Homo sapiens: one gene and its partner. The protein of the gene in region 1 purifies or fractionates together with the protein of each later gene. This does not show direct contact. Each region holds a gene or a part of one and is shown on either strand. Other genes may lie near its edges.

Region 1 (5,274 bases):
GTAACAGCATGTATTCTGTACTGTCGTCAAGACTGAACCAAATGTTATTCATAGACTGGGGTTAAAAGCACTAGTATATAGTATATTTTTAATACCATCCTTGGTAATTTTTTTTTTTTTTTTTTTGAGACAGGGTCTTACTCTGTCACCCAGGCTGGAGTGCAGTGGCATGACCACGGCTCACTGCAGCCTGCACCTCCTGCACTGGGTGATCCTCCCACCTCAGCCTCCCAAGTAGCTGGGACTACAGGTGTCCACCACCAAGTCCAGCTAATTTCTCTATTTTTTGTAGAGACAGGGTCTCACCACATTGCCCAGGCTGGTCTCCAATTCCTGGGTTCAAGCAGTCCTCCTGCCTCAGCCTCCCAAATCCTCCCACTAGGATTACAGGCGTGAGCCACTGCGCTCAGCCCGTCCCTGGTAATATCATACCTGATATTTTTCGTTAGTCTCATCAGAACGTTGTGCCTCATACATAGAATTTAACATCACCTATCATTCTTGAGTATAATTGTTAATGTTTTAACCAGTCTTCCTCTCCCCCAGTATGGCAGCCACCTGTTTGGAAATGTTTTGTTGGTTTGTTTGAATAATATCCATTCTTTTCATTCTCAAAGAAGTACTGTTTGTTAAAAAGGACATACAATTTGTCAAAAGGAAGTCTAAATAGATATTGTTCATACTTCCATCTCATTTGCGTCCTGAAATCGGATGTACATTAACATCCAGAAAGAATGAAAAAAATCTTGAAAGCCAAAATTGAAATGTTAATTTGTAAAAATATATTCTTTAGGTAAATATTAGACATTTTCTCTCTATTCTTACCTCAAACGCATGCTTGCCATGCCTACTCTTCTCCCAATTTGGTGAAGGTTTTAGTTAAAGGTTTAATTCTGCAGTGATTTCTTGTCTCTTACATTGTTGTCTTTTTCTGGGTTTAGTTCACCACAAGTCACAAGTCAGTAATTTTTTTTAGCAAACAAGGTAGGACAGGGCAAAAAGAATAAATTTTGCCTACTTGGATTATTTTTTAATCCAGTTGTCTTAGTATCAGGACCTCGAAGGATACCCAGAATCTGATGCTCAAGTCCCTCAAATAAGTTGGTGTAGAATTTGCATAACTTACGCACATCCTCCTGTATATTTCAAATCATTTCTAGATTACTTAGAATACCTAATATAAAGTAGACACTATGTAAATAGTTGTTATACTGTATTTTTAAAATCCGTATGTTTTATTTTTTTCCTGAGTATTTCAATCCGCACTTGGTTTAATCGAAGGATGTAGAACCCTCAGATACAGAGGCAACTATATAGTGCATGAACCAGGCTGGCAGACTTTCCATGTACAGCCAGATAGTAAATGTTTTACACTTTGTGGGCTACATAATCTATCACATTCTTGTTTGATTTTTCAACCATTTAAAAATGAAAAAAACTTAGTTTGAGGGCAGTTAAACACAGGGTGAGCCAGGTTTGCCCAAAGTTTGCCAACTCCTGGACTAGTCTGCTGAATCTTTAAAGCTTATGTAAATGCATGATGACCACCATGGAATAGACTTTTTAAAAAAATCATGACTGTATCTGGGCCCAGTGGCTCACGCCTGTAATCCCAGCACTTTGGGAGGCCGAGGCAGGCAGATCATGAGGTCAAGAGATCAAGACCATCCTGGCCAACATGGTGAAATCCCGTCTCTACTAAAAATACAAATATTAGCTGGGCGTGGTGGCATGTGCCTGTAGTGCCAGCTACTTGGGAGGCTGGGGCAGGAGAATTGCTTGAACCTGGGAGGCAGAGGTTGCAGTGAGCTGAGATCGCACCACTGCTTTCCAGCCTGGTGACAGAGCAAGACTCCGTCTAAAAAAAAAAAAAAAAAAAAAAATCGTGACTGTAACTAAATCCTGTGAAATAGTCGTTAATAAAGAAATACTTGTTAACCTGTTTTTAAGCTTGAATCCTAAGTAGAAAAGTTACCAAATTGCCATTCTAAATTAGAGTGCTGAAGACTACTACCCAAGGTGGCACAAGTTGTATTAGTACAAAGTCTTAGGAGGAAAAACCCTCTTTATAATCTTCTTACTTTTGAAGACTGATTCATTTTCTAACTATGTAGATAATCTTTTATATTATTGATTTCTTTCAGCTGACCTCAAGAGAATTTGCAAGACAATAGTTGAGGCTGCAAGTGATGAGGAGAGACTAAAAGCTTTTGCTCCCATTCAGGAAATGATGACTTTTGTGCAGTTTGCTAATGATGAATGTGATTATGGCATGGGGCTTGAATTGGGAATGGATCTCTTTTGCTATGGCTCACATGTGAGTAAAAAAACCCTCCACCTTCTACCCACTGCCACACCTCCCTCCTCTCCCCGCGACATACATCCACACATGAATACGTGCACATTTATACCCCCAAATTCCAGCAGAGGTAAGACAGGGATTCAGCTTGTATTTCAAAATGAAGTTTTTGAAGTGATTTTTTTTAACGTAGATGTCCTAAAAATGTTTTAAACTCATCTTATATTCTGGCAAAGGTGAATATTTGCATTCACTCAAAGGTGAAGATTATTTGCATTCAGGCTTACATTAAAGTGAATTTACTCATTAGACACATTATAGGGACATGCCTTCTTGCCGTGTGTGTACGTTTGGGGCTAGGTATGGGGGTGTGTGCACACACCTTAGGCTCCATTTCGTTTCCATTGTGGTGGGGGTATTTGTTATTGTGCTTAAATTCTTAGATGAAAAATGCACTTTAAATTATTTAAGCTTTATAAGAGATGCTGTTTTACCGTTAACTAATTGCTCATTAAATAAGAAAATTTTACTTAATAGCTAAACCAGTGCTTACTCGACCATAGTTGCCTGAAGATCAAAGAGGCAATAAGGTGTAGCGGATATGACCTGTTTCTGGGGCCAAACTGGTTGTAAATCACATCTTCCCAGTGTGTAAGATCGGGCAAGCTTTCCAACACCTTTGCATCTGTTTCTTTACCTGTAAGATATGTGTGCACATGTGCACGAGTGCATACCCACACGCAGATCATTTAATTCTCATTTAACCTACTTTGTAACCAAGTCACAGAGAGGCAAAGCATCTTGCCCAGGTTCACACAAGCAGTCTGGCTCCAGAATCAGTGCCTAAATCAGTGCAGTAATTCCCAAACTAAAATGCATATGACTCACCTGCAGACATTGTTAAAATGCACTCTATCGGTAGGTCCAGCATGAGATCTGAGACTGCATATCTGTCATGCTCCCAGGTGACGGTCATGCTGCTGCTCTACAGACCACACTGGGAAAAGCAAGACCAAACCAGTAGCTCTCCAGCTTTAGCGTGCATCAGCGTCAATGGGAAGGCTTGTCCAAACGCTCACTGGCAGTCTTCCCACCCTCCCCAAGTTTGATTGAGTTCTAGGGTGGGTCCTGAGAATTTGCATTTCCAACAAGTTGCCAAGTGAAGTTGATGCTCCTGGTCGGGGGTGTACATTTTGAGAACCCTGCTATAAACCATATTATACTACTTTTCTTTGCCCACCTCATAGATAGTTATCAGTAAAAATAATCAAAATGCTTAACAGCCAGAATGACAGTCATTGACCAATCCAAATAGTACTTGACCTGCTAGAGAGGCCCTAGCCATAAATAAGTAGAGCCATAAGATGTGAACCAGTGAATAGCAAACTTGCTTGTTGTGAGAATGAAATAACATGTATGAGTTATAAAAAGGTTTAGCACAGTGCTTACCGCATGTTAAGGGCTAAATGTTTATTATGATCAGCAAAACGGTGGTATATGTAGATAATAGCAGTAATCTCAAATCTTTTGATAAGCCTAAGGCAGTGACTCTTAACAGGGATTGGGAGGCGGTACGTGTTGGGGATGGGGGAGAGAAGGAATTTGAGGATAAAGGCAATACGATCTGAAAACTTTCAGCATAGCTATTCTTACAGAATTGAGGAAAATAAAGCTTAAACTTTTGCCTGGGAATACACTGGAGAGAATAAAAAGTATTTGTGGGCATTGTTTGGGGTGAGAAAAAGTTGATAAAACCTAAGGGAATAAGGAAGCTCGATTTAATTTGGTTTTCTTAATTTTCAAGATATGCCATTAGTCATCTAGAGCAACAAGACTGCCTCTTAGAATGCCAGGCGCCTGTCCTTAAATTATGTTCACTAACCACCTGAGGGTGTAGCTAAAATGATTTTGGAAGTAGCCTTTGTTAAACAAGTGCTTTGTTGATATATTTTCTGCTACTTATTAGGATATCTGCTATATTCTCTGCTTAATGTTATATTTTTATTTTTCAGTATTTTCATAAAGTTGCTGGCCAGCTTTTACCTCTTGCATATAATCTGTTGAAGAGGAATCTGTTTGCAGAAATTATTGAGGAGCATCTGGCAAACAGAAGTCAAGAGAACATAGACCAACTTGCTGCATGAGTAAGGTGGCTTTGATTGGTGTACAGTATTTCAAAGGACTAGTATTAAACTTGTGATTTTTGTTTTGTTTTTAAGGAATACAAAAAATAAACATTTACTAAAAACGTTTATAAGGTTCTTCTGCCTGGTTTTCCTTCTTTAATGTGCAAAAAAATGGCAGTCAAATCACCTAAATGGTGACCCTAATCACATTTTGGAGGACAATTAAAGTCACCCTCTGATATGTCACAGGAAGCCACTGTCTAATGCCTGTGGCTATAACTAGACCATCCTTACAGAGTCCTGTTTCAATATTTATCATATGGGCAACTAAGAATATTTCTTCTGAGTCTTGAGTTAATAGCTGTAGCTTTAAGGATCGGGTTTATGGCAGGAGAAGAGGGGAACAGAAGGAAACTTAGAAGGAGACTCATGACACTGCAATAAGCACTCTTCCAGGGTGCCTGACCCCGACCTACCCAAACTGCATTTTGAGTAGTAGCTCCAGGTGACTCCCAGTAAGTAGTCCAGTTATCCCATTAGGTATATTATTTTAAATCTTCTCTTGACTCAGTCATTTACTAATACAGTCTAGTATATTGATACATAGTATATAGTTTTAGTATAAGATAGTAATCAGTATACCATTACTTTAGATTTTAAAGTTTTTCATTGCAAATGATTTCAATGGATGTTTAGTACGAATCTGTGGATAGCTGTGTTTTACTAGATCCAGATTTTCCTTAAACCTGATTACATGTCCTTCACCTTAAAAGTAGAGGGCAGGGCCGGGCGTGGTGGCTCACGCCTGTAACCCCAGCACTTTGGGAGGCTGAGGTGGGCGGATCACCT
Region 2 (7,299 bases), on another chromosome or scaffold:
TTTCTCGGTTACCTAGGCTAGAATTTAGTAGTGTGGTCATAGCTCACTGTAACACTGAACTCCTGGGCTCAAGTGATCCTTCATCTGGCCTCCCAAGTAGCCAGGACTACAGGCACATACTATCATGCCCAGCTGATTTTTAATTTTTTTTTGTAGAGATAGGGTCTCACTATATTTCCAGGCTGGTCTTGAACTCCTGGGCTCAAATGATCCTCTTGCTTCTGCCTCCCAAAGTGTTGGGATTACAGACATGAGCCACTGCACCAGGACCAATAAATGAATTCTTAATGAGACTTGGACCTGGAAATCTCTAATATTTTATGTCTGGTGACATATATAGACTATATTCTTGGTGCTTTTAGTTTAGAATCATTATTTTATTCTGACTCTTATACTACTAGATGGTTATTGCTATGTGATTTAGTAGATAAACTTTTAAATGACACTGCTACATAAAGAAACACTAAAACAATAAAGATAATTTAATATTTGTTGTTAAAAAAAAACTTTTTGAAATGTGTGTTGTTTACATACATAAACAGAAAGGCATATTAAATATCCCAGCATTCCTTCATACATCCTTATGGCTGGTTGCTACTGCCTGTGTTTTTATTCACACAGCTTCCTTTATATCAGTGGTCCCCAACCTTTTTGACACCAGCGACCAGTTTTGTGGAAGACAGTTTTTCTGTGGACCCAGAAGTTGGGGCAGGGTATGGTGGAGAGATGGTTTTGGGATGAAACTTTTCCATCTCAGATCATCAAGCATTAGATTCTCATAAGGAGTGCACAACTTAGATCCCTTGTATTTGCAGTTCATGATAGAGTTTGCAGTCCTTTGAGAATCTAATGCCAACGCTGATCTGACAGGAGGCAGAGCCCAGGCAGTAATGCTCCCTTAACACACTGCGCACCTCCTGCCATGCGTCTGGGTTCCTAACAGGCCAGGGACCTGTACAGGTTTGGGCCTGGGGGTTTGGGACCCCTGTTTTAGATGACAAAAATATATAAAAGTATCATACCCCATACATTTTCCTTATTCAGTCGGATATTGGAAATCATTACGCCTGGTATCAGCTATTCTGGATATTCTATTTTGATGCTTCATCAAAACTCTACAAATGTTAGTTTCTTAAAGATAGTTGCATTATTGATTCTGAAACTGCATCAGTGAATCTGTTGTTACATTAAAATTCACTGGTCTATCTTGGACTTTTTACCCAGTGGTCTGTCTTGGACTTTTTACCCAGGTGTGATTTTGTAACATTCATTGGTTATTTAGAAAATATGGTTCACTGAATTACACAGATCTCCCAAATGTTGAAACACTTCATTATGTAATATTTTAAAAATCACATTTATTAATATCACATCTAATCTCATTTAAAAAAATCTAAGTGTTGGGAATCAGTTAAGCTCACAGTGGTGGGTACTTATCTTCCAAAATTCTAATTTTTCTCTTGAAAGCTTGGTTTTTATCCTTGACAGCAAATATCGTTAAGTATTTTCCTTGAAATAACATGTAAATGTTTGGCAAATACCCAAATCTGAATAATCATAGGTTGTCTGTTTTTCTTTCAAGAATAAAATGGCATTCCATGAAAAATAAATTGATTTTTAAACTCACAACTTAAATAATTGTACAGGTCCTTTCCTTGAGATAACCATTGTGGTTTGGTACACAACAAAAATGCTTTATATGCAAATCTCATTTTGTCACACAGGATACTAGACAGATGTGTACTTGATGGGAATTTAATAAAATTAATTTTTCTGTGCCATTGGTAAAAATTATTTTTATTTTATTTTATTTTATTTTATTTTATTTTATTTTATTTTATTTTACTGCCAGTGTATGGTGGTGAGGCATACAGTGCACCTTGTACTTACTGAGCACTAATAGTACTTTTTGGTGCCATTAGTTTGGTACCAAGGTGCTAGCAGTTTTACACACCATTGCTTTTGTACCATTAGTGCAATGTTGCTATTATTAAAAGGCTAGAAAAGTGTTTATTATGTTATTTTGAAAAATAGTTGTTTTGAAAAATAACTAGTGTTGTTATTAAAAAAAAAAGTAGTTTTGACTACGTGGGACCTCTGGAAAGACCATTGGGATTTTGATTGACATGATGTTAAATTTATAATTAATTGGAGAGAGCTACACATTTACAATATTGAGTTTTCCTATATAGGAACATAGTATGTTCTTTCATTTATTCAATTATTCACTAAAATTTTATATTTTCTTATAAATATTGCGTATTTTAAGTTTATTCTGAAGTATTTTCAGCTTTTTGCCATTATAAATAGGACTTTTTTGAGGTATATTTTCTAATTGGTTATTGTAGGTATAGGAAAAGTTGATTTTTGTGTGTTTACCTTGTTTACAAATAAAAAGTTTTTCAATTGAATATATATATATATTTTTTTCCACTGAGACACAGTCTTATTCTGTCGCCCAGGCTGGAGTACAGTGGTGTCATGGCAGCTCACTGCAACCTCCACCTCCTGGGTTCAAGTGATTCTCTTGCCACAGCCTCCCAAGTAGCTGGGATTATAGGCGCACGCCACCATGACTGGCTATTTTTTCTATTTTTAGTGGAGACAGAGTTTCACTGTGTTTGCCAGGCTGGTTTTGAATTCCTGGCCTCAAGTGATCCTCTTGCCACGGCCTCCCAAAGTGCTGGGATTACAGGCTTGAGCTACTGCTCCTGGCTCTCTTGAATTTTTTTAGGTAGACAGGTCATCTTTAAATTACAATTCGTTTTTCTTAATTTGTTTGTTTGTTTCCTTATTGCACTGGTTGAGACCTCTAATTAGTGACAAATAGTAGAGATATTGGACATCTTTGTCTTGTTCTGACTTGAGTGGGAATATTTAGTATTTTCCCAGTAGGTTTAATTTTTAAGGTTTTTGATGCTTTTTAAAAAAATCTAAGGAAATTTTTTATTGCCTTATATTGCTTATATATTGAGGGTTTAAAAATAATAATGTATTTAAGTCATCAAATGTGTTTTTTCTTTTATTTTGTTAACGTGGTAGATTATATTAATATAGCTCCTATTATTTATTGAACCATCATCTTTCCATTCCTGGAATGAGATCTGTTTGGTTACAATGAAAATCTGATAGAATTTTTTGCAACTTTTCTCCTTTTAATTTGTATTTAAATATGTATTCATAGCTGTGATTGGCCTTAAGTCTTTTTTCTTCTGATTTGGATTTCAGGGTTGTGCCACTGATAAATAATTTCAGTCTCTTTCAGTGTTCTGATGTAGACTAAATTCTAAAGTAATTTTTTGCTGCTTGTACATTTGATAAAATTTACCTGTTAAATCATCTAATTCTGGTGGCATTTATTTGGGGGTAGACATGTGCACATTTTTAATTTATCTTACAGTGTTTTTATTAACTAAGGAAATCTTATGGTGGCATGGGTCATCTGTTTCGTTTTACTGTTGTAGCCTTAGCACCATGCTAGTCATATAAAAGATGCCCAGAAAATTCGTTGAATGAATCCTTATAAGGTTGAATAGTGCTTTTACTTTGCTAAAGTTTTATTTGAACTGTGTTAATATTTTTCTTCTTCTTTTTGTTTTTTCTCCTTAAAGTTCCACTCTTGTCCTGGGGACCCAGCTTTAACTTTAGCATCTGGTATGTTGAACTTAGTGGCATTGATGATCCTGATATAGTACAACCTTGTCTCAACTGGTATAGCAAGGTAGGACTGTGTTTTAAATCCTGACTTTAATGCCTATAAAAGGAGAAATATGTCAATCTCTTATCTTCATTGAGAATAATTTAAAATATTCAAAATAATAATAACAACAGTTAGCTAACATTTTATTAAGCACTTCCAGTCTGCCAGCTTTTAAGGAATCCTGATAACTCACTTAGTCATTATCACTCTATGAGACAGGTGCACTTATTATCCCCATTAGTTTATAGATGAAGAAATGAAGAACAGAGAGATTAAATAGTTTGCCTAGGATCACACAATTGTAAAGTGTTTGAGCCAGTATATGAATTCAGGCAGTTTGGCTCCACAGTCTGCTTTTATGTTATTATACCCATTTGACTCTGAATTTTGTTTTTTCACTTGTATTCATATAAATACTTAAAACATAGTTTTTAGTGGGATAGTTTTGCAGCCTAATGGAAAATTTAAGATGTGGATGTGATTTAGACTCCTAAAGTAGTCAACAGGGTTAAAAAATACTGCTGTTTAATATAACTGTAATATATATTGTTACATGGTAGTTATGATAAGTCTTTTTTAGAGGCCAAGAGTAAGTTAATTATAGTTAACTAATTATAATTAAGTTGTTAATTAATTATAGTTAATTATAACGTGTAAGGATTAGGTGTTTAATGACCTTTTATTAGTTAAGTCAGCTATCAACTGATTTGTTTCAAATCTTATACATCTTCCTAAACACATTATTTTCTTGCCTTATTAAAGGGTCATGCCTATAAGTAAATCATTGTTGTTTGATTATCATGCAGGCTTCCATGTCATCTGTTTGTTTGAATAGTGGTATACTTAGGAAGTTTGAGGTAGTCCCAGAACATATTCCTGAAGTTGAGATTTTTTTAAAAAAATCCTTTTTATAAGATTGTATTTTTGGCATCTATCCTATTAGGGGAAAATTTTAATAAATTAAGTGCCTGCTTTTTGGATTCCAGTTAATTGAGATGTCTACTTTATAGCTGCTTAATAGATGAGGTAGTTCAGGCTTAGAAAACAATTAAATTGGGCCGGGCGCAGTGGCTCACACCTGTAATCCCAGCACTTTGGGAGACCAAAGTGGGCAGATTGCCTGAGGTCAGGAGTTCAAGACCATCCTGACCAACATGGTGAAACCCCGACTCTACTAAAAATACAAAAATTAGCTGGGCGTGGTAGCGCGTGCCTGTAAGCTCAGCTACTTAGGAGGCTGAGGCAGAATTGCTTGAACCTGGGAGGCGGAGGTTGCAGTGAGCTGAGATTATGCCGCTACAGTCCAGCCTGGGAGACAGAGCAAGACCCTGTCTCAAAAAAAGAAAGAAAAAAAAAAAGATTAAATGTCTCTTTTTGATGATTTTTGAGTCATAAAATGTGTTTGTAAATTTGAAATATCTGTATACTTGATACTTGTCATTCAAGTAATAGTTTATTTTTAAAAACCAAAAATAGCATAATATAATTTATGTGGATTATTTAATGTTCTTTTGTGCTCTCAGTACCTGCATTGTAATGGGATTAATAGATGCTATGGAGTTATAATTTTTACAGTATTAAGTGGAGTTTAAGAAATAGATGTTCTCCCTTTCTTCAAAGTTGAGGCTCTGGAATTAGGTTTGGTTTAATAACTTTTGGCTACATATTTTGTGACCTTGAGCAAGTTATTGGAACAGGCCAAGCTTTAGTTTTGCTAGTTAAAAGAGCCAAATAATGATACCTAATGAATCAGGTTAGTAAACTGCTTGGCACATAGTGTTAATAAATGCTCAGTGTAGATTAGTTATTTTTACTGTTGTTATTGTTTCCTACAGTATCATCTAACCAAATCTCTTCTTTCCATACTTACTCTGTGTTCTAGTAGTACCGTGAACAGGAAGCTATTCGCCTTTGCCTAAAACACTTCAGACAACACAACTATACAGAAGCTTTTGAGTCACTGCAAAAGAAAACCAAGATTGCACTGGAACATCCCATGTTAACAGATATTCATGACAAGCTGGTGTTGAAGGGTGATTTTGATGCTTGCGAAGAGTTGATTGAAAAGGCTGTAAATGGTATGAAACTTAGATTGGTTATTAGGGTAAATTCAAGTACATACGGGAAACTTTTTCTCAAAAATAATATAGGCTTATGCCAGTTATTACTGTAATTTTTTTTCTTGGTTTTTTACTCGGTTAAAGATTGTTATCTCTTTGGATTAGGGACTTCTTTCATGTAAAATAGATCCATGATGTAATGAGACTTAAAAAATTGAAATGTACTTGAACTCACATATAAATTTAAGTTGTCATCTTGGGAAACCATGCACTTACAAATGATTAACTAGCATTAAACTGTATCAGAAATAATATTTTGATATTGGTAGCCAATATTCATTAACAGTGTAGTTTTGAGGAGAAGGGGGGCTAGATAATAAAAAATGTTATTAGTAAACAATTATATATAAGGAACAAGGAGATTTGTATTGAAAACAACTTCCTTGTGGTGTGAATGCTATATAATTGCTGATTTTCTTGTGTGACCTGTAGTCTGGCTTTGAAAGAAATGTGAATAGTTGAACATCTGTATTATCTCCCAGGGTATTGGCTTTGGAGGGTAACACTCATTTGGATTTTTAAGGTCTGATGTGTTTTGTTATTTAAACTAAAAAGGGACTCTGTTGTTGCTTATAGTATGACTTTTTTTTTTAATCTTCCTCAGTAACTTTCATAGTGACAAACAACAGAATAGTTGCACAATATAAAACTTGTGGAATTGAATTTGGTGCATCCTTTATAGGAAGAAATAAGAAATAATAGATTATTCAGTGGTTTGCTCTCATTTTAATTTTATCACTGTTATTATCGTCTATTATTAGGTATTCATATTTATCAGATATTGGGTAGCTAAAAAAAAACCAGACTTGTACTGCCTTGAGTTTATAAATTTAAAGTTAACTTAAAATGAATTGCTTTGAGCTCCACTTTTTGAAATATGACAAATCTGCTTCTAAGCCTTGTGCATTGTTATTGCTTACTTGATTGATGATGATACTTGCAAATAAATGATAGGTATGTTTGAAATTGAGTATATTTTGGAGTATAAACAAACAAATAACTAATCTCTTAACAGACTTTAAAATGCTACCAATAAAAAAAAAATATATATATATATATATATATGCCATTTCTAGGAGTGAATTCTGTGGGTTTTTTTTAACCTCATAAGATGAGGGAGGCATAGGTAATTTTAGGGCTTTTTTGTTTGTTTCAGATATTTATCAGTAAGGCATTTGATACCATTTTGTGAAGGGAAAGCAAAACAACAGCCACAGGCAACTCTACAGTTAATAAGCTAAAAACAGTTATATTTTAAAGGTCTCTTTAGTGACGTACTCAGTTGGTTAAGATTAGCTGATAAAAATCTTGTGCAGTTTTGATATCTACAGAGACTTAACTTATCCTTTGGCTCTAGAAAGGAACCAAGTTTAGAGAAATTAGTAGTTGCTCAATTCTTGAAACTTACAGCCACATCATAGTTTTTGTACTGTGAATACTATGGGCTTTCTAAACTGGCCTGGAACACTGTTAGTTAAT

What was found.
Region 2: the proteins of HPF1 (region 1) and MKLN1 purify together in Homo sapiens (affinity purification with mass spectrometry; 2 studies listed by BioGRID and IntAct, with this or other methods). This does not show direct contact.

What each region holds. Positions count from the first base shown.
Region 1 is NC_000004.12:169,728,747-169,734,020, reverse strand, and holds the end of HPF1 (histone PARylation factor 1), read left to right. Parts: intron 1-2,144; coding exon 2,145-2,317; intron 2,318-4,311; coding exon 4,312-4,443; 3' UTR 4,444-4,551; downstream 4,552-5,274. UniProt on the Homo sapiens protein: Cofactor for serine ADP-ribosylation that confers serine specificity on PARP1 and PARP2 and plays a key role in DNA damage response.
Region 2 is NC_000007.14:131,393,656-131,400,954, forward strand, and holds part of MKLN1 (muskelin), read left to right. Parts: intron 1-3,611; coding exon 3,612-3,721; intron 3,722-5,582; exon of another isoform or gene 5,583-5,585; coding exon 5,586-5,778; intron 5,779-7,299. UniProt on the Homo sapiens protein: Component of the CTLH E3 ubiquitin-protein ligase complex that selectively accepts ubiquitin from UBE2H and mediates ubiquitination and subsequent proteasomal degradation of the transcription factor HBP1.